Linked DNA regions of Homo sapiens. The protein of the gene in region 1 interacts with the protein of each later gene in a pairwise test. Each region holds a gene or a part of one and is shown in the gene's direction. Other genes may lie near its edges. The genes, in order: KLHL41, SPMIP2 and IFRD1.

Region 1 (7,112 bases):
CTTAATGTTCTGTATAACAGAACATTAACAATAACAGTTATACAAAGTTGGAAGGTCAGCAAAGCAAATGCCTTGCTGCTTTTAAAAGGCACTAATAGAACGGTATGCCAGGATAAAAACACTTCACCATAAAAGAGGGTTGTGACTCATCAGACAATATTTACATGAGAATTTCAGGTTTTATATTTTTCTGCTTGGTCACATCTATTTAAAATGCATTAATTTAGGAGTAATTTGACCTTTGATTGTATGCTGTAAATAGATTATGAGAATTTTTTACCTTGGTAAGGGAGGATTTTTTCCCCCACTCATTAATTTGAATTAATAGATTCATCAAATCTTTGAACAGGTCTTAAAGTAATCTAGGTCCAAACCCTAATTTTAACAATGAGGAAAGTTGAACTCAGAGAAGTTAAATAGCTTGATAGTTCCTCTATAAAAGAGACTGGTAGGTAGTCTACTGTTCCATCTGCTAGAGAAAGTGCCCTCTAACAGGTAATATGGGAAGGTAGGCAGTACTGTACAGTATGAGAGTTAAGCCCACAGGTATGGGATTATGATGGCTGCTGTTTCCATTTTTTAAAACCAACTGTGAATGTACATGGCTTGGATTTGAATATCACCTAAAAGTTCTGTGTATTTGGGAAAATTATTTAATCTTCCTGTGCCTCGGTTTCCTCATCTGTAAAATGGGGATGATAGAAATGCCTATCCTGGAGAACTAAATGAGGTTACCTGTGTAAAGCATTTAGTTCAAAGACTATGACAACAGTCAAAACCCCATAAATGTTCATTATTATTTCTACTATATTACATACCACCTTCATGATCAAAGAATTTCTTTCAAAAGTGAAAACATAAGGGATCAAAATCTAGCTGTTGAAATTAGTGAATGCAAAGCTAAGAATGCACATGTGGAGATTAAACTTCTCATGTCATCTAGTCTTAATTAGCGCTTTGTTTAACTGAGGTTACTAGACCACATATAGATAGGCTTCCACAGACACCCCTGTCTATACCACAGCCATTTGTATGCACATCTATTCTTAGTATCCAGTGAAACTGGGTTTTATTCATTTTATTTTTGCAATCTAGAAGTGGTACCAGAGAGAACAACAAATCTGCAACTGTACTCTTGCAGAAAACAGTTTTCTTGTGCCTTAGTGTGCTAAAATGAAAAGTGTAAAATATTTAAATTACCAAAAGTAAGTGATGAAACAGATGCCACCATCATCTACCCCAGGGCATGGGCACAAGGAGATTTTCCTCCTTGGGAAAATCTTAAGCTTGCAGAAGTGGTGGTGACCAAAAATGAGCAGTTACTTATTAATATAAATTTTTTAAAAAAGAGAAGAGTATTTCAAGGGACTCCCAACAACACACTAGGAAATTCACTTTAACGCCTGCCTGTATCAGGAATAATAAAGCAAAACACAGAGAACCTAAAATGTTTTTAAAGAAAGAAAAAAAGATATTGCCCAACATCCCAGTTGTTTGTGGACTGAGTGACAGGTCCAGCTGTCCCAGCTGCCGGCATGGGGAGCATGTTAAATATAGCACGCAGGGGTCATTCACATTCTGTGACCCTCCTTGTTATGACAACCTTTCTTTCCCCAGTGTCCTAAAAGTATGAGGATCTCCTGTTTCAAAGCTGAACAAGGCAATATGGGAGAAAATTTGACAAGAAACCTCACAGTTGTAATTAACCTCTGGTGATTCTATTTTATTTTTTCTTTTCTTGAAGCCTTGAAGATTTTGATATCTTTATCTGGTAGGCCAAGTAGATTTACTCATTCTTCTTGGTAATTATGAGCTACAATGTGATACTTTGGGGTTGTAGTTTTATTTACTTGTGAGATATTTGACTATCTCGATGACTTCTAAACAACATATAAAGTATAACTTTTTTTGGTGTACTTCTAATTTTTTTCTAACAGGCTCCACAATCTCTCATATATGTTTTTTTCAGCTCGATAGCATAGCATCTGAATGGGTTGGACTTCCACCTCTGCCTTCAGCCAGGTGTCTCTTCGGTCTGGGAGAGGTGGATGATAAAATCTATGTAGTTGCAGGCAAAGACCTTCAAACAGAGGCTTCGCTGGATTCAGTATTATGCTATGATCCTGTGTAAGTTGGCATGATATTCCTGTTCCCTAAGCATTCAAGTATATGCGTGCCTACAACATATTCATATTTTCAGAACCTGGAATTTACTGAAGGTATATAAATTCTGTCTCGTTTAATTTTAGGGCTGCAAAATGGAACGAAGTAAAAAAACTCCCTATCAAAGTCTATGGCCATAATGTGATTTCACATAAAGGGATGATATATTGTCTAGGAGGAAAGACAGATGACAAGTAAGTACCCTGAACTCTCATGATTTATGTCTAAATGACTTTTTATTAGAAGGGTTTCTTCCTCTTTTCTTTTCTTTTTTTTTTTTTTTGAGATGGAGCTTCACTCTTGTTGCCCAGGCTGGAGTGCAGTGGTGTGATCTCGGCTCACTGCAACCGCCGCCTCCTGGGTTCAAGCGATTCTCCTGTCTCAGCCTCCTGAGTAGCTGGGATTACAGGCATGCTCCACCACGCCTGGCTAATTTTGTATTTTTAGTAGAGACAGGGTTTCTCCATGTTGGTCAGGCTGGTCTTGAACTCCCGACCTCAGGTGATCTGCCCGCTTCAGCCTCCCAAAGTGCTAGGATTATAGGTGTGAGCCACCACGCCCGGTCTCTTCCTCTTTTCCTTTGGATCTGCACACTAAAATGGGACATGGTTCTCACCTATCATATTGTGGAGGGAAAATCTTAAAATTTCAAGTCGCTGAAGTAAACATGTAGATACTCAGCATACTGCTAGGAATGAGCCTAATACCCCAATCATAAGCATCCTTACAGTCCAGGCAGTATCTAGGAGCATAATCAAGTCCTGTATTTCACTGATTTATAATTGTATTTTACTACATTAAAACCAATGGGTTTTCTTATTCATTTAGCCATAAGTAGATAAAAATTGAAAGGTATCTTTAATGTAGTATTTAAAATATATCTTCTAAGACAACTGTGCATAAAAAATATCATGGATTTGTACTTTACATTCATAAGAGGGACTTTAGATAGGTCAGTTTGAAAGAAAAGCGTGGTGATTGAAAAGAGGGAAGTAAAAAAGACAAAATAAAAACAAAAAATTAAGGCAATTATTTCCTCAGCAGTGTTCTTCCACATATTTACTCCCTGACAGAGGTAATATTCAAAATGGCTTCCAACTGTTCAAAACTGAGCTCCCAGTAGCACCCAGTATCTTGTGAGAAAACCAGGATGAGGTTTCATATATAAACCTAACTTGATTTCCAGTCAATTCTTAAGGAACCTGTAATCAGGAAAGAGATGTTATAACCCAGAGAGAGGAGAAGTGAGCTCCGAATGCTTCAGAGACAGTCAAACCAGTATAACCTGTCTAGTAAAATAAGCATTTTCAGTTTAGATGGTGAGAACTAATATTCTGCCCCTGAAAAATCTGCCTGATTTGGCTTGTCATCATTTGCCCAGGCCATTGAATTAATAGTGATGTCCAACCCTGAAAAGGGAGCCAAAATTTAGAATTGTAAGGGCAAAGCAGGAAAGGAGAGTAAAATATAGAAATGTGTTAGATGTCAAGAACTCTATTCTGGAGTTAATGATTATTGGGTATTAGTCAATTTAAATGGTAAATATAGCACAGAAAAGGCGATTTTAAAAAGCAATGGTTTTTAAACATCTACCTGTATTCAAAGATAACATATTCTAAAATTTTTATATCCTCCCTAATCCCAGCTATTCCTATCAAATTTAAAGGAAGGTATATTATATGCTTACCTGGTGCCAGATCTTATTTTGGGCATTTTTCCTGAGTAAACTGAATGGAAAATCACTACTAAAGAGCATTCTGACTTTGGAAACACAGGAACCCTGCCAAATGATTTAAATTGTTTCCTTCAAGCAGCATTAGTAACTAGGAAATTGATATGTCAGTAAGAAGCATACAGTTCTTGTCAGTAGGAATATATCAATCTTGAGAATATGATTAACTAACACAACACTGCTTGACAAATGTCAAAGTCAAGAACTTTGAAATGAGTCATTATCTAAAAGTAAGTGCTGGGCTGGGTGCAGTGGCTCATGCCTGTAATCCCAGCACTTTGGGAGACCGAGGCAGGTGGATCACCTGAGGTCGGGAATTTGAGACCAGCCTGTCCAACGTGGAGAAACCCCGTCTCTACTAAAAATACAAAATTAACCGGGCGTGGTGCCGTTTGCCTGTAATCCCAGCTACTAGGGAGGCTGAGGCAGGAGAATCACTTGAACCCGGGAGACAGTGAGCTGATATCGCGCCACTGCACTCCAGCCTGGGCAACAAGAGCGAAACTCCGTCTCCAGAAATAAATAAATAAATAAAAGTAAGTGCTGAATTGCACCAGTTCCCACTAATGAATTTGAAGAACGTGATTTTGGATAATGTTCTTATCAAGAAGTGTTCAAATGATACCAATAGTCAAATATTAGAGGAAATGCTTCTACTCCAGATAACTGGTCTTTTACACAATTAAGAAAAAAATTGTCCTCACAAAAAAGTTAAGGTGTTTTTCATCACCAAATATATCCAGTTAATCAATTATTATTTGAAATTCTGAACTCCCATCAAATTATAGATAACTTCAAGGAACCATAAAAAACATACTAAGGGCGGGGCATGGTGGCTCACACCTGTAATCCCAGCACTTTGGGAGGCTGAGGCTGGAGGATCACTTGAGCTCAGGAATTCGAGACCAGCCTGGCCAACATGGCGAAACCCTGTCTCTACCAAGCATACAAAAAACTAGCTGGGTGTGATGGCACATGCCTGTGTTCCCAGCTACCTGGGAAGTTGAGATGGGAGGATCACTTGAGCCCTGGATGCGGAGGTTGCGGTGAGCCAAGATCGCACCACTGCACTCCAGCCTGGGTGGCAGAGTGAATAATAATTCAGATGAGTCCAGGTCTTTCTGGTAGCATTTAGCATGTAAAACTGTTGTCATGATTCATCAGCTCAGATGATTTGTTGTCTAATCCATAGTCCCAGATTTCTTAAAATGCACTGGTATGTTAGTGCTAATATAAAATAAAATGATCTATCATATAAAATTTAAAGTAGGTATATTTGCACCTAATTATTCTTTAAGTTAACTGATTCGTTCCTAGGATATTCAGATAATAAATAAACTTACCATTTGTTATTGAGGTGCAATAAAAGGTTTATGATTTTATTTTTTACTCAAATAGAGTAAAAAAACTTCAATTGAATTTAGTAGATACGATTAAAATCAGCTGTGCCTGGGGTTCTAAGCAGCTATCCAGAAGTAAAGGTACCCTATCTTCCAACAGTAAAATTAAGTTATAGTTTTGGTCCCCACATTTGGGCTTGTCCTTTGTTTAGTGGCATATGTTCAAATTAAGAATTCTTTGGAGTTTTCTGATCCTACTATATATTTTTCATGACAAGCAAAGCCAAATTATTAGTGAAGGTGCTGTCAAAAAAAGGTTCTAAAAGGAACATTTGTTTTTCTGTTTACAGAAAATGTACAAACAGGGTGTTTATCTTCAACCCCAAAAAAGGAGATTGGAAAGATCTGGCTCCAATGAAAATTCCTCGTTCCATGTTTGGAGTAGCAGTCCATAAAGGCAAAATTGTGATTGCAGGAGGTGTCACTGAAGATGGTCTTTCAGCTTCAGTTGAAGCTTTTGACCTTACAACAAATAAGTGAGTTGCCACATCTTAGTATATAGCATGTGAACAACTATACATTTTAATTGTTAACTTTGGATAAAAAGTTATCTTTCTAATTAGGATGTGGGGAGGGGAGGGTACAGAGCCACAGATTACAAAGGAAGTATTTTCATCTGGGTTTCTTTTGTTGTTACTGGATGTAAATCTTGTCTAACATTCTGATGCATTATATGTCTGTAATCTGGAACACATGACCCTTAAGTCAGTGTTGTCATGCTCTATTTGTCCTTGTTATTAACTTTGTGAATTTAGAAATGCAAAGGTAATACTTGTGAATAATTATGATTATTTTTAAGAGACAAGGTCTGGCTCTGTCACCCAGGCTGGAGTGCAGTGGCACAATCATAGCTCACTGCTGCCTCAAACTCCTGGGCTCAGGTGATCCTCTCACCTCAGGCTCCTGAGTAGCTAGGACTACCACTATGCCCAGCTAATTTTTGTTTTTGTTTTTGTTTTTGGTACAGACAGGGTCTCACTATGTTGTCCATACTGGTCTCTAACTCCTGGCCTCAAATGATCCTCTCACGGTGGCCTCCCAAAGTGCTAGGATTATAGGTGTGAGCCAGCACACCTGGCCCTGAATAATTGTCTGTGTAGATGGATATACATGTCTCTGTGGAATCATTTGATTTTAAATGTAGTTTCTTTATGAAAAGATCTTCACTTAACTTGTTAATGATTGATATCTGTAAAGTATGAATGCTTCCCAAGTTTTCATTCCTTTACGCTGTTTATAATTTTATTAAAAATTTCATTTTTAAGCTTTTATTGACTTAATGTGAAAAGATATTTGACAGCTATTCTTCATATAAAATTGGTCTTTTTAAAATTTTTGAGCTCACACATCTGGATGAGTATGTACCTTTTATATTCCTAGTTTAGCAATGAAGAAAAAAGAGAAATATTATTACTTTTTTTAGAAACATGTATGCCTGACTACAAAACAGACTTTAGTATCTGAAAATTACAAGGAACTTTTGTGGAACACTATTTAAATTATCATTAAAAATAATGTTTTCGAAGACTGTAATGTGGGTAAACACTCATGATGTAAGTTAAGAAGCAACACACAAAAATTGTAAATATCTTCTTAGTTTCATTTATATGTATGGAAGCTTAAATGTACATGCTTTTTAAAAAGATGACAAAATTACACCAAATTGTTGCTTGTGATTATGTCTGTAAGGTATGATTATGGAGATATCTGCTCTCTTGTATACCTTTCTGTACTTTCCAGATTTTCTCAAACTTTTTTTTTTTTTTTTTGAGACAGGGTCTCACTGTGTCACACAGGCTGGAGTACAGATTTTCTAT
Region 2 (6,708 bases), on another chromosome or scaffold:
CCCAACAAAAAAAGAAAATGTCAGGCCAATATCCCTGATGAACATCAATGCAAAAATCCTCAATAAAACACTGGCAAACTGAATCCAGCAGCACATCAAAAAGCTTATCCACCACGATCCAGCTGGCTTCATCCCTGGGATGCAAGACTGGTTCAACATACACAAATCAATAAAGGTAATCCATCGCATAAACAAAACCAGTGACAAAAACCAGATGATTATCTCATCTCAATAGATGCAGAAAAGGCCTTCGACAAAACTCAACACCACTTCAAGCTATAAACTCTCAATAAACTAGGTATTGAGGGAACGTATCCCAAAATAATAAGAGCTATTTCTGACAAACCCACAGCCAATATCATACTGAATGGGCAAAAACTGGAAGAATTCCCTTTGGAAACCAGCACAAGACAAGGATGCTCTCTCTCACCACTCCTATTCAACTATTCAACATAGTATTGGAAGTTCTGGCCAGGACAATCATGCAAGAGAAAGAAATAAAGCGTATTCAAATAGGAAGAGAGGAAGTCAAATTGTCTCTGTTTGCAGATGACATGATTGTATATTTGGAAAACCCCAACATTTCAGCCCAAAATCTCCTTAAGCTGATAAGCAACTTCAGCAAAGTCTCAGGATACAAAATCAATGTGCAAAAATCACATGCGTTCCTATACACCAATAACAGACAGAGAGCCAAATCACAAGTGAACTCCTATTCACAATTGCTACAAAGAGAATAAAATACCTAGTAATATAACTTACAAGAGATGTGAAGGACCTCTTCAAGGAGAACTGCAAACCACTGCTCAAGGAAATAAGAGAGGACACAAATAAATGGAAGAACATTCCATGCTCATGGATAGGAAGAATCAATATTGTGAAAATGGCCATACTCCCCAAAGTAATTTATAGATGCAATGCTATCCCCATCAAGCTCCCATGGATGTTCTTCACAGAACTGGAAAAAACTATTTTAAATTTCATATGGAACCAAAAAAGAGCCTGCATAGCCAAGGCAATCCTAAGCAAAAAGAACAAAGCTGGAGGCATCATGCTACCTGCCTTCAAACTATACAACAAGGCTACGGTAACCAAAACAGCACGGTATTGGTACCAAAACAGATATACAGACCAATGGAACAGAACTGAGGCCTCAGAAATACCACCACACATCTACAACCATCTGATCTTTGACAAACCTGACAAAAACAAGCAGTGGGGAAAGGATTCCCTATTTAATAAATGGTGTTGGGAAAACTGGCTAGCCATATGCAGAAAACTGAAACTGGAACCCTTCATTACACCTTTTACAAAAATTAACTCAAGATGGATTAAAGACTTAAATGTAAGACCTAAAACCATAAAAACCCTAGAAGAAAACCTAGGCAATACCATTCAGGCATAGGCATGGGCAAAGACTTCATGACTAAAACACCAAAAGCAATGGTAACAAAAGCCAAAATTGACAAATGGGATCTAATTAAACTAAAGAGTTTCTTCACAGCAAAATAAACTATCATCAGAGTGAGCAGGCAACTTACAGAATGGGAGAAAATTTTTGCCATCTTCCCATCTGATAAAGGGCTAATATCCAGAATCTACAAAGAACTTAAACAAATTTACAAGAAAAAAACAACCCCATCAAAAAGTGGGTGAAGGATATGAACAGACACTTCTCAAAAGAAGACATTTATGCAGCCAACAAACATATGAAAAAAAGCTCATCATCACTGGTCATCAGAGAAATGCAAATCAAAACCACAATGAGATACCATCTCACACCAGTTAGAACGGCAATCACTAAAAAGTCAGGAAAAAACAAATGCTTGAGAGGATGTGGAGAAATAGGAACACTTTTACACTGTTGATGGGAGTCTAAATTAGTTCAATCACTGTGGAAAACAGTGTGGCGATTCCTCAAGGATCTAGAACTAGAAATACCATCTGACCCAGCCATCCCATTACTGGGTATATACCCAAAGGATTATAAATCATTCTACTATAAAGACACACGCACATGTATGTTTACTGAAGCAGTATTCACAATAGCAAAGACTTGGAACCAACCGAAATGCCCATCAATGATAGACTGGATAAAGAAAATGTGGCACATATACACCATGGAATACTATGCAACCATAAAAAGGATGAGTTCATGTCCTCTGCAGGGACACGGATGAGGCTGGAAACCATCATTCTCATCAAACTAACACAGGAACAGAAAACCAAACACCGCATGTGCTCCCTCATACGTGGGAGTTGAACAATGACAACACACACAGGAAGGGGAACATCACACACCGGGGCCTATTTGGCGGGTGGGGGGCTGGGGGTGGGATAGCATTAGGAGAAGTACCTAATGTAGATGACGGGTTGATGGGTGCAGCAAACCACCATGGCACGTGTATACCTATGTAACAGACCTGCACGTTTTGCACATGTATCCCAGAACTTAAAAGTATAATAATAATAAAAAAAAAACTAATAAGGCAGGATTGAAGTATGAGGCTGGTAGAGAGATATAAACAAAAGCAAAAAAAAAAAACGACAAAGAGACATGTTGCAAGTTAACTGCAAAAGCAAACACCTCATAAGGGGGAAATACTTTGTAAATAAAGTATGTAAGAATAATCTATGACAGGAAATGCCAAGAGCCGAACAACACAGGCGTCACATTCTGGGTGTGAAAGATGAGAAATCTAAGCAAAACACAAAGGCCCCAGTCTCTTAGGAGGCTTAGATAATTTAAACGTCGACATTATAAATATTTTCTTCTCCCAAGTGAGGGGAATCATCATCATGGATAAGCGGGGGCAGTTCCCCAAATGTACAATGTCTTTTTGTTCTCTTTTGAAAAATCAAGCTGACAGTAAAACAGAAGTAAGAATTACTTCCCCTAGAGAAGTTATAGCAAATACCCTCTGGAGGATGATAGGCATTTTTAGTAACATACAAGTCTCCTCTTTGGTGGGCTTATAATAAAGGAAGGAAAGCACTGTCCCCCCACAGACACGCAGGCAGGCTCCTCAAGCCTAGAAGGGCCTTTCCTGCCACCAGGTGGAATGTGCCAACCTACTCCTCCTCCAGGAAGTGAAATGTAAACACAAGCTGCTGCTGCATGTCCCACAGCTTGTGACTTCAGCATCTTATTCAGTTACTAGAAACGGGCAGTGTGGGATTAAATTTTCTTTTCAAGCATAAGATAATCCACAGAGAAGAGCAACAAAGCACGACCAGCCTAAAGTCCTGCGATTGATTGTAGGTGTGAAACCCAGTATCAGATAACGGAACATGCTGTTCATTGGGGAGTTGCAGAGGCACGTATCTGATGGACTCCACATACTTTGATGGGTTACCAGGGCCTGAGGTTTAGGGTGACACAGGCTAAACACGTTAGTGGGTACAATGCTAGGGATACCTATCAAAGGGACAAGTGACGGCACTTCACAGAACTCACCCCAGTACGACACCTAATTCTTTCACATGGACTCGTGTGTGTCCCCGGAGATATTCAGATAGCATTTTACTTTTAAGGTACATCTCCTGTAGTCTATCTTCAAGATGCATGATGCACTGCAAAGCCAAGAACATTCACAATGAGGGCTAGAAGTCAAATCTCTGCCAATATTTTAAGAGTCAGAATTTTCTTAATTCATTTCTAACTACACAGCTTTTATCTCATCAGTTTCAAATACACTTAAAAAATCACAAGCCATCTCAAACCCTACCACTACCAGGTATAAGAATAGGTTCTTGTAAAACAAAGTTTACTTTTGCTAACTATTAAGATTTACATATGTATTATTCTAGTCTTTTTAAACAAGTATTTTTTTCATAGTTGAAATCATTCCAAAAGTGTTTCTTGCCTTTAAAAAACTTTATAATAATCCTTTCCCATATTAAGAACTTCTTGATATAATTTTTATAGCTAAACAATATTGAGAATGTGAATTTACACGTAACCACATAGCAAATTGCATTTTTGTTATAAATAATTTAGTAAACAGTATGGTTTTTGTTTTTTTCCCCCAATAGCTCAGATTATTCTGGCCCAGTACATTTCCAGAGGAGACTGACGGGAACAGGTCATTTTGAACCTCCCCCACAACTTTTTTTTCTTTTGCTTTCAAGAATGTATTTTAACTAGGTCTTTAATAACAATAAAGAAAAGGCAATTATTTTCAGGACATCTTTACCCTTGGAATAGTGTTCAGCTTCATTTTTTTAGAGAATAGCAACCATCTGTGTCTTTCACCAGAGGCAAATGCTTTTGCATTTGGCAGGCAGATACCCGAGCATCTTCAGTAAGACACCTGATGGCTTTGGCAAGGGTAATTCCATCATACCTAATTTTCTTCTAGACCATTAGGCCTGTTATTTTCAAGGTAAAAAGATTAACAGATGCATTTGAAAATGTTGATCTTGACCATCTGGGCTGATCAACGACATGGAAAAAATATCTATCAGAGATGCAATCTTTTCAGTTTTTCATTGGTTTAAAATCTTAAATACATTGTGTCAGGTGGATGAAACACAACTGCTAAGTGACTAAGAGTAATAAAGTAAGGAGGATTTCACCAATTCTCATGGAAATGCTCCTCCAAGTAAACAAGGTGGTAAAAGGATCTTTATTAGCTTTCAGTTCCTTATGGAGTGAAATAGAAAATTTTTAGTAAGAGTCACAAAATATTAAAAATAATATTCATATTACATTGAACCCTTTCTGTTTGGAAAAAGTAATTACAGTGTTCACAGCCTATATGAAAACTGTATGATGCAGTGTGGAAATAAGAACTGTGGTCTATATGAAATATATACTAGACGTGAAATCAAAGCATTTAGACAACTTTTAGCCAGTCATAGTGGCTCACGCATGTAATCCTAGCACTTTGGGAGGCTGAGGTAGGAGGATCACTTGAGCCCAGGAGTTCAAGACCAACCTAGGCAACATAGTGAGCCTCTGTCTCTACAAAAATTAAAAAATTACCTGGGCATAGTGGCCCACACACCTGTAGTCCTAGCTAATCAGGAGGCTGAGGTGGGAGGATTGCTTGAGCCTAGGAGGTCAAGGCTGCAGTGAGCCAACATCATACTACTGCACTATAACCTGGGTGACAAAATGAAACTCTGTCTCAAAAAAAAAAAAAAAAAAGAAAACATTTTTTAAAAGACTTGATTATTCCATTGAACCATGCTGGGGGCTTTTTAAACTCCTCTTTCTGGGATTTTATTCCTGAGATGGATTTCTCCAATTTTTAACTTCTAAAATTTCAAATAGCTACCTTCTCTTTTTGTATTGAAGGTTCTAAAAGCCATTTAATCACAGGTTTCATTCAAGTGATTTTTTTTAAGGAGAATTTTAAACTGCAGATAAAATTTTCTTTGATCTTGGTTTTGTCAGGTTAAATAAGTCATTCACACTAGTAAGTGCTTGAACACACTTCTGTCCAAAGGAAGTAAAAAGAATTAACTATAACAATTTATTGCTTTGATAACCAAGATATCAACTGTGACAAGACGTATGTATTATAGAATGAAATATAAAAGTTTGGCAAATACTTATGAAGTAAACTATGAAGTCTAATATACATTACTTCTCTTACAGAAAAGGAAACATTAACCTCTAAATCAGCATAACTCAACCTGCTTTTAGAAGGAGAAACTGCCTACTACTGTATAACAAAAAATAAGATCATAATAATCCACAAGTGCTTCTCATATTGCCCCAGGACAGATGTCTTGCAAGAGTACGCTTCAGCTTAAAGCCCAAATAAACAGTTTGGAAAAAAGGTGTTGTCAGTCTTTGCAACCATTAATATTGTTTCATGAAACTAATTGTTATTGACTATCATACTAATAGTAGCTGTTTACTGAGTGCTTATAACATCTAACACTATTCCAAGTGCTTTACATTCATTCTCTAATATAATTTCATAACCATAGGAGATAGGTTCTATTATTTCCCCAGCTTTGCAGATAAGGAAATTAAGGCTTTGAAAGAGTACATGGTTAGGAAGTAGCAGAACTTGGATTTGACCCCAGGTTATGGGGCTCTAAAGCTAACATATATGGCTTTTAAAGTATTTTATAATATTGGCATGGTGCTTTAGCAGTAAAAAGCAGTTATATCCCTAATTTTCAGAAGATTCTCACAGCACCCTTGTTGAACAGGTACTATCTTTCTTTTACAACTAAGAAAGCTGAGGTTCGGAGAGACTCGGGATTGTCCATTGTTACACAACTAACCAACGGCAAAGCCTAGACCATAACCCAGCTACGCTCAGTGGTCTTCCTGCCTTGCCACACTGTCCCGACTTTGATAACAACCAGACGGTATTTCAGAGCACCTTCTTCAAAGTCATAAAAGTCTAGACTCTTTTTGAGGAATGGGTACAAGTATAGATTTGGTCATAAAAACCCAGGACAATGACCATTACATTAGCAATTAGCGTAGGTAATTAATATTTAAAAACTTCCTGCTTTGTTGGGTAAACAGGTTTGCATCATTTTTGGAGGCCAGGAAGCAGATAACAGATGTTTTGGTTTGGGGCTGTGCTGCAGAGAACAGCGCTGTGCAGACAGGAGGGAACAGCAGAGAAAGCAGACTCTTTCCTCACACACCTGTCTCTGAGGTCAGCCCATCCAAGCTCTACCCAGCTATATGCCATATGCCCTTAAGCTTCTCTCTCTCTTTTTAAGTGTTCATCA
Region 3 (7,975 bases), on another chromosome or scaffold:
AGAATTACATGAGAGGTGTGAAAACAGTCTAGAACAGTGGCAGTGTGGACTTGCAATAAATGTTAGCCTCATCCTTTTCCCCACATTAGTTCCTTTGCTTTTAAGAAAACTGCTAAAATACAGAGGAAATTGACTCCCTCATTCAATTAAAAACACAGTTATTGTCTACTGGGCCACTATGTACAGATGTATAGGTTGTTCCCTGCTGAAGAGAGATTGGTGACTGGATTCCAGCCCATAAACACTCATCAGACTTGGTGTTCTGTTTCTAATTTGCACAAAGGTGCTACATGTGTGTTTCAGAAGTGACAAAACTGGGCTTTGCCCACAAGTAGCATGTAGCTTGTATCTCATGTCTGAGGGGAAAACAGACAAGTAATCAAGAACTACAATACATATTAAAAAAAAAGAAGTAAAAAAACCCTACAATACATATAATTAATGCTAGTCTAAAGAAGGCACTGCAAGAACAAAAAAGAAAGACATTTAAATCAGACAATTTGGGGGGCCCAGGATTAGTGACCGAGGATCAGTAACTTAAAGGATGATGGGGAGATCGTGGGGAAGGATGTTCTAGGCAGAGGAGTGACATTTAATTATTAATACATTTATTCATTCAGTAAATGTGTTTTGTTAGTTCATGTCTTTTATTAACTCATACACAATTAATTGTCTTCTGGTTTGCTGAAGCAATGAGACATTTGTCACAATAATGTCTGTCAAAGTGGCTGGCCATAAACGCTCCAGTACCACATTCATCTGAAGAGCACTCTAGATGAAGGCGACTTATTTTGCCATTCTCATCCACCTTACAGTATTTCAGGACAGCCAGCTTCACCTTCTTTCGCTTACGCTTATTCTTCTCAGGAGTGGTGTAAACATTCAGTAAAAAATAATTGAATATCTAAGTGCCACGTACTGTTCCAGTACTGAAGATACAATAGTGAATAAAACAGACAGGATCTCTTTCTTGTAATTCTAACATTCTAGTAGAAGAGACAAAAAATAATTGGGCCAAAAAATATTAAGTAGTGCGATGTACTTTGGGAGAATATAAGCAGGGTGGAGGTGCTGGTGGTAGGTGGGGTGAGGATGCGACCTTAGAATGGAGAGTGGAAGAGTGGGAGAGTAGGAAGGCCTCTTCAGGTAGGTGTCATTTAAGCTCAGATCTGAATGGCAAGTGTGGGAAGCTCGGGTTGATCATATCAGGCAGAGGGAGGAGCTGTTGCAAGTCTTAAGTGGGGAATGAACTTTGTGTTTTTAAGTTGGCAAAGACCAGTGTGGCTGAAATGCAGTGGATGAAAAGAGGGGCAGGAGATGCAATATGGAGAGAGAGGTATGTGCCAAACCTAGGTAAGGCCTGGAAGCTTGAGAGTGGTGAGCTCAGAGACCTGCTAAGAGTTTGATATGGCATTAGGAAAGGGACTGTGTTAGGTGATGAGAGAAGTGATTTGGGAGATACAGGCAAGAAACAGATTCCGACAAGCCCTACATGGAGGATCTGGGAGGTATTATTTCTGCTCAGTGCTATGCAGAGAATCCCAAGGAGGCCATGACTAAAGTCATTCAAAGAAAACCTTTCATGTTTATGCCTTCAAGGAAGGTATGAATACTGAATCTTATCTTTATTACTTGTTCTTGAATCAAAGTCATCAATGAGAACTTAGAACTCTTCTCAGGCGTGCCCCTAAATTCTGATTAATGTAAGATTTATTTTTGCAACATTTGAGTATACTTACCCTGATGGTGATTTCTGTTCCATGGAATGTTAAACTAAGTTGTTTTGTAAAAGAAGAATATATTTTACAATGACTTAAATGTTGAGGCAGCACATAATGTCATGTTGGTAACAAATATGTGATATTTATTTATTAGAGCATGAGAGTATTTTGCCTCCTGATATATGAGGCAGACATTGCTATTTGTCTACCTTATATCCATGGTTTCCCCTTCATTCTTAACAACAGAACCTCAATTTTGTTTGCGAATGAGCCCAACCGAAAATACTTGTGTTCTAAACTTCCTTGCAGCTAGGGATCATCCTGTGACACAGTTCTGGTCAACATGTAGGTGGAAGTTTCTAGGGAGTGTGGTCTTTCCTGAAGAAAAAGGCAAAGTCTGGAGAAAGCCCTTTTTCCTGTTCCCTTTCGTGCTTCCCCTTCCTTTCTGGTATTTGTAATCATTTAGTGACTTGATGTTTGGAGTCTTCTAATTTCTTTAAACATATTGCAAAATAGTATGTGGAGCTGAAGACCACTGTCCCATGAGGAGGTGGGCTACATCTTTGTGATGTTTGCACTGGTCTGGAGCTAAACTGCAGGCATAAAACTATAGTAAGGTAATTTTATCAAAAGTACAGTATCTCTCAGAATTCATTATACTGAAGGCTGTACTTCATGTTTGTAGTGATAAGTAGTTTCTCCCTTTCCTTGATCCAGAATGTATGTATGTAGTGATACATAAGTTTCTCCCTTTCCTTGATCCAGAAAAATCTAGTCAACAATTATTTCTTAAATGTTCATTTAACTATATATATACTGACTATAATTTCAATTTCAAATGTAACACTTCCTTTTGTGCCATGAGGGATACAGCAAGATTTTTTCAAGTTCCTGGGCCTGTAGATTTAAAAAAAAAAAAAAAAGAAAGAAAAGTAAGAAAAAAAGAAAAGAAATTAAAAAGAGGAAAAGATTTTTGTTCTTGGGAAGCTGATAATTTCATGAGATGACAGATGTATTCACAAATAAATGTAAAACAAGTACGTATATGATGTGGTGGGCCATGGCCAGGCCTGCCGCAGAACGACTAAGTGGATGTGAAGGGATTTGGAAAAAAAGCCCCTGCCCCAAATGCAAAGCACACGTTTCCAGGGCTGGAACCTGGATGTTAGGCCTAGGTGATGTGACTCCAGAGTGGCAAAACTGTTGCCTTATGTATAGTATAAATTGTTTCTGGATGGTGAAGAGCCTAGGGTTATAAAAGTTATTGAGTCTACAATTCTGTGAGACATCTCATTCTGTATAGGCCCTGTCACTGAGTTGCAGTGTGCCTCTAGATACAAGGAGTCAGTGTGAGCTGCTTCCTCCCCCACAACCTGCCTCCGTATTTGGTTTCTGTGCTCTGTGCAGTTTACTGGCTGCTTCAGGATTAAACAAAGTAAAAGCAACCCTGAAATGTTGCCCATTAAATAGCATCTTTGAGTAGGCCGTGTGGGGAGGTAATAAGTGCCATTAGGGCATTATTAGGATGAGTGTCAAAGAGTTGTGAGGAGGAAGAAACTTCTGGCTGGAGGCTTCAGGAAGGTGGCAGCATGAGCTACATCTTGAACGGTGGATAAAATTTCTTAAGGTGAAGATGGGAGGAAAGGCATTACAAGAACAGGAAAGAATATGAATGAGGAAATGGAGGTAGGAGAAGAGAGCCGTGTATTGGAAATGAAAAGCAGTCCTGTTTGGCTGAAGAACAAGAACTGTATGAGGAAGCAGTGAAAGATGAGGCTGGAAAGGGAGTCAGGGCCAGGCTAAAAGGGTTGGCATTTAAAGTTAGTCATGGGAGCCATGGAATGTTTTTGAGCAACTATTAAAGCAGGTGGATTAGTAAAATAGGGAACACACAAATAAATCTGGCAGCATTACTGTGCATGAAACATGGATGAAAAGACTGGGAGATCGCTTAAAATGCCCAGGCATGAACTGAGGTCACATGTGATCACAGAATAGGACAGGAATTTAAGAGTGCTATTTTAAAACTAATTGCTTTGCGGGTGGGGAGGGGGTGGTGCATCAAAGGGAAAAAAGACTATGAATTTGAGTTTTGGAATTTAACATATGGGAGGATAATAAATAGTACAGTGAACAAAGGGAAGACAGGAAGAAGGAAATATAGTATTCGTTTCAGAGATGTTGGGTTGAGGCACAAGTGGAACATTCTGGTGGAAATTTGCTACAGGCAATTGAAAATAGAATAGAGCTCAGCTGAGAGGTGGAGTGGCGGATGACTCACCTACATTGAGGTGAGTCAGGGACTTTGATCTGTCATAAGCATAGTATATGAACCTAATAACAGGCTCTAAATACTAGACAAATGTCCTAACAAGGAAGACAGAGATCTAGGAGTGCCTTGAGAAAAAAGGCAGCACTGCGATTATTGATCTGTATAACTTGTGTTTGTTTTACCAGCTGTGAAATTCTCAGAACTGGCAGGTAGTATTGTCAAGGGACACATTCTTGTATAGAAACCCACAACGCTGAATCGTCATATATTCCTAGTCTAGAATCTGAGATATACACGAACTCCACAACTAAGTAGACGAAAGCATCCCTTTTTTTGGGGGGGGGGGGGGATGGGGGGCACATAACCCTGAACCACGGTCCAATTACAGGTACAGTACTGATGATGGCTTAAGTAGTTCATGGAACTAGTTAAAACTAAAACCATGGAAATGTTACCCAGGAGAGGTAAGGCTGCGTGCCTGGCAGGTGCCGCAGGGAAGTAGGGGAAAGGTTAAGGAGAACACCAGCCTCCGGAGAAAGAGAAGCAAAGGTGATTGCATAGCTGCCAGCTGGAAGCCGACTCTCGTCATAGGGCATACTCGCCCCACTGTGCATCGCCGGTGCCTACCTCACCCAGTTCCAAGGCGGGGGCGCGCCGAGGCAGGGGTGGGGTCACCAGGAGAAAAGCAAGTGGGCAGAAAAGCCCGTTGGGAAGAGACGGCTGGGAGGAGGCCCCGGCCCCAGCCTTACTACGTTTCCCAGAATTCAGTGAGGCCACGAAGACAGGCTCCCTGGGCGCGGACGGAAGACTGGCCGCATGGGATTTGTAGGTAGGATCCGCGCCCCGCCCGACGGAGGCGTCCAGTGGGGAGGTGTGCAGGGATTGGTTGGGAAGCGCTCAAGCCCCGCCCACAGAGTGACGTCAGGTGGCGGTATTGCTACTTAAGGCGTCGTGGCCTCCCCTGCCCCGCCTTAGCTCCCGCGCTAGAGAGAAACATGTATCGTTTTCGATCACAGCTCTTCACGGGGATTTCTGCTGCCGCCACCGCCCACTCTTACCCCCGCCGCTTCTCGACTCTGTTGTTAGCCGAAGACTCGCCTCTCAGCCGCCCGCCGCACAGACGCACGAGTAAAAAGTGCAGCTCCATCGGCTGATCCTCGCTAAGCTCCGACTCTGGGCGGCACCGGGCGTCCCACGATGCCGAAGAACAAGAAGCGGAACACTCCCCACCGCGGTAGCAGTGCTGGCGGCGGCGGGTCAGGAGCAGCCGCAGCGACGGCGGCGACAGCAGGTAAGGGGTATCCCCGCCGCCGGCATCCCAGTTGCCGGCCAGGCTGGCGAGTCTTCCATGCTTCGGCACGGTGGGAGTTGTAGTTCTTTCTCTGATGTACACATTTGCATTTCCAGGGTGCGTGGTTTGGCTACTGAACTACAATTCCCAGCGTGCCCTGGGCGCTGCTCCTCGCGCGATTTAGATCTGGCGTGCGAACCGGACTCTTGGGCACCGGCCGTGGGGGCAGGGAGGAACGGGTCCTTGGGCCTGAGAGTGTGTCGGGACAGGGGCTGACCGGGAGCTGGGCGGGAAAGGAACCATTGTCAGAGTTCCTTTCTCGGCGGCGATCTCGCCCGATCTCTCCCCGACCACGGGTGGGGAAGAACGGGGAGTTGAGCCCGTGCCGTCACTGGCCGCCTTTGACACCCTGGCTCCAACATGGAGCTCCTGGGATGCCAGACGTCCGGCGGGTTTGGACGGGCTCTTGCGTCACGCGGCCTGGGCCTTGCGCGGTGGGCCCGGGGTGACGCAGAGGCGCTGGGGAAGCTTTCCGTCTCGCAGGTCCACCTGGCCAGGCGAAGGCGTCGGAGGCGGGGGGACCACTTTCTCCCCCCTAGGCTGTGCTCCTTCCCCTAACTGGCACCTGCAGAAGCCCTGAACCTCTAGCACCTCTGCGACCACCCGAGGCGACCTCCTGCTCACGGGGGGAAGAAACGCGTTCTCCTTTGTGCTGCATTCTATATGTTCTCTGCAGTGAGCCCCAGAGAGGCAGGGTGGTGAGGAGCTTAGGTTGCAGTTGGCTAAAAGTTGAGGTTATTGTGCCCTCGCTACGAAGTTGAAACTTTTCCTGGGTGGGATGAGTAGGTGCTTAACTGAACTTATGGTTTTCTACTTATTATATGGTTAAGAAAAAGGATTCCAATTGGAATTGGAAGGCCCTTCTAGGAGAGACCCCAATAAACTCAAATCGAGTATTAAATAACCTGGGTAATATTTTATTTAGAAATTTAAACAGGAGTTAAATATTGGAGTATTCTCCGACGTTATCACACTGGAACTATTAGCCATCAGGTATTTTTGGACACAGTTGCCCCTCTGCCACGGCTGCCACTCAGAATGATATGCCTTTGTTCACAAGAAAAGTAAATATGGGGTTATGTTGTTAAAGGTTATTGGAAACTGGCATTTAAAAAAGCTCAAAAACTCGTGATCATGTATTAAACATTTAATAATTGACCATAGGGAGGGATTCTTAAAACAGCAATTTTTTACATTTTTTAGGTGCCTCTTTATTTTGAATGCTCTCCATGTTGATGAAATTCATTCTTTATCAAGATGTAAAATATGTAATTTATTGTGGCCTCTGGTTGCTCTATGTGAATTGAGGATACTTTTTTTTTTTTTGTTAAGGGAAAGAGGGAGTCTGGCTCTGTCGCCCAGGCTGGAGTGCGGTGTGGTGTGATCATAGCTCACTGCAACCTCTTAACTCCTGGGCTCAAGCAGCTCTCCCTCCTCAGCCTCCTGTAGCTAGGACTACAGGCATGTGACACCATTCCTGGCTATTTTTTACATTTTTTGTGGAGACAAGGTCTATGTTGGCCAGGCTGGTCACGAGTCCCTCGTCCCCAGGGATCTTCCTGCCTAAGCCTCCCACAATGCTGGGACGGTGCCTGGTCTGAGGATATTTCTTACCACTGTGTTTCAGCTTTTCCTCATCTGAATCAAACATTTGAATTCTTTCTAGAAGGTATTTATTTTATTCTATTACCCTTTTGTTGATGAAATGGAAAAGTTTGAAAGCTAAAGTTTGAAAGTTATAATGATGTTAGTAATGGCCTAGATCACGCACAAACCTTTAATCCCGTCTAAAGTTTCTGGGCAAGCCTCCTTCCCTCTTTGTGCTTATAGTACCTATACAGGCCTCTGGTGGCTGTATGGGGATTGCCTTTTAAATTTTGCTTCAGGGCTCATTTGTGACCTTTCATCAGCTTTATTGCTGCTACCTTTTCACTATTTTAGTAGAAAAGATCCATTTCATCACTGAATTTTAGCATATGTAAACAAGTGGAAAATAATTCTTTGATTAATTTATAACACAATACATGCTTTGAATATCTTTGGAAGTGTGTGCTAGAACTTGTTAACTGTGGTTACCTCAGAAGTGGAGCTGGGGAAAGGTATGGGGGTGAGATTTACTTTTTAAAACTTTAACTTGGTCCTATGTGAATGTTTTACTTGTTTAATAAACAATGAATAAATAATAGTTGAGTAGAAGAGATGGAAAATTACACAAACTTTTGCTTACTTAACAAGCCACTTACCTAACTAGTATTTTTAAATGACATCTAAAAGAAATGGGATTCAAATGAGGTCTCCACTATGTAACCAAATTGTCATTATTACTTTAATGAGTTTTCTATTTAAACTCTTTATTTTTTTTATGTTAGTGGAGAGTTTTAGGAAGCTAATAAAATTGACTTCTTTTATACAGGTATGTCATAGCACTTAATTTAAAGAGAATATTTTTAAGAAAGAACAAAACCTTGTTAGTAAGCCCTCTAGAAATAAGTACTTTATGTGCCTAGAGTGCCATCTCTTTCGTGGTACTTAGGATCACAGTGTGGGTGGGTGAGTTTGACCTAAATATCAGGCATTCATACAGGGTTCTTTTTCTTGATACATATATATGTGTATTTTTTTTCTTTCCCT

What was found.
Region 2: the proteins of KLHL41 (region 1) and SPMIP2 interact in binary tests that used the Homo sapiens proteins (3 or more experiments, as listed by UniProt).
Region 3: the proteins of KLHL41 (region 1) and IFRD1 interact in a two-hybrid assay, tested with the Homo sapiens proteins (one study listed by BioGRID and IntAct).

Annotation. Positions count from the first base shown.
Region 1 is NC_000002.12:169,512,605-169,519,716, forward strand, and holds part of KLHL41 (kelch-like protein 41), read left to right. Parts: intron 1-1,969; coding exon 1,970-2,127; intron 2,128-2,249; coding exon 2,250-2,357; intron 2,358-5,585; coding exon 5,586-5,771; intron 5,772-7,112. UniProt on the Homo sapiens protein: Involved in skeletal muscle development and differentiation. Regulates proliferation and differentiation of myoblasts and plays a role in myofibril assembly by promoting lateral fusion of adjacent thin fibrils into mature, wide myofibrils.
Region 2 is NC_000004.12:158,892,615-158,899,322, reverse strand, and holds the end of SPMIP2 (protein SPMIP2), read left to right. Parts: intron 1-3,457; coding exon of another isoform or gene 3,458-3,573; intron 3,574-5,605; coding exon 5,606-5,620; 3' UTR 5,621-6,189; downstream 6,190-6,708. Other genes in the region: FNIP2 (folliculin-interacting protein 2), read right to left, coding at 3,458-3,573.
Region 3 is NC_000007.14:112,445,499-112,453,473, forward strand, and holds the start of IFRD1 (interferon-related developmental regulator 1), read left to right. Parts: upstream 1-4,961; 5' UTR 4,962-4,988; coding exon of another isoform or gene 4,989-5,147; 5' UTR 5,148-5,190; coding exon 5,191-5,284; intron 5,285-6,559; exon of another isoform or gene 6,560-7,013; intron 7,014-7,975. Other genes in the region: uncharacterized LOC128031837, read left to right, coding at 4,989-5,147. UniProt on the Homo sapiens protein: Could play a role in regulating gene activity in the proliferative and/or differentiative pathways induced by NGF. May be an autocrine factor that attenuates or amplifies the initial ligand-induced signal.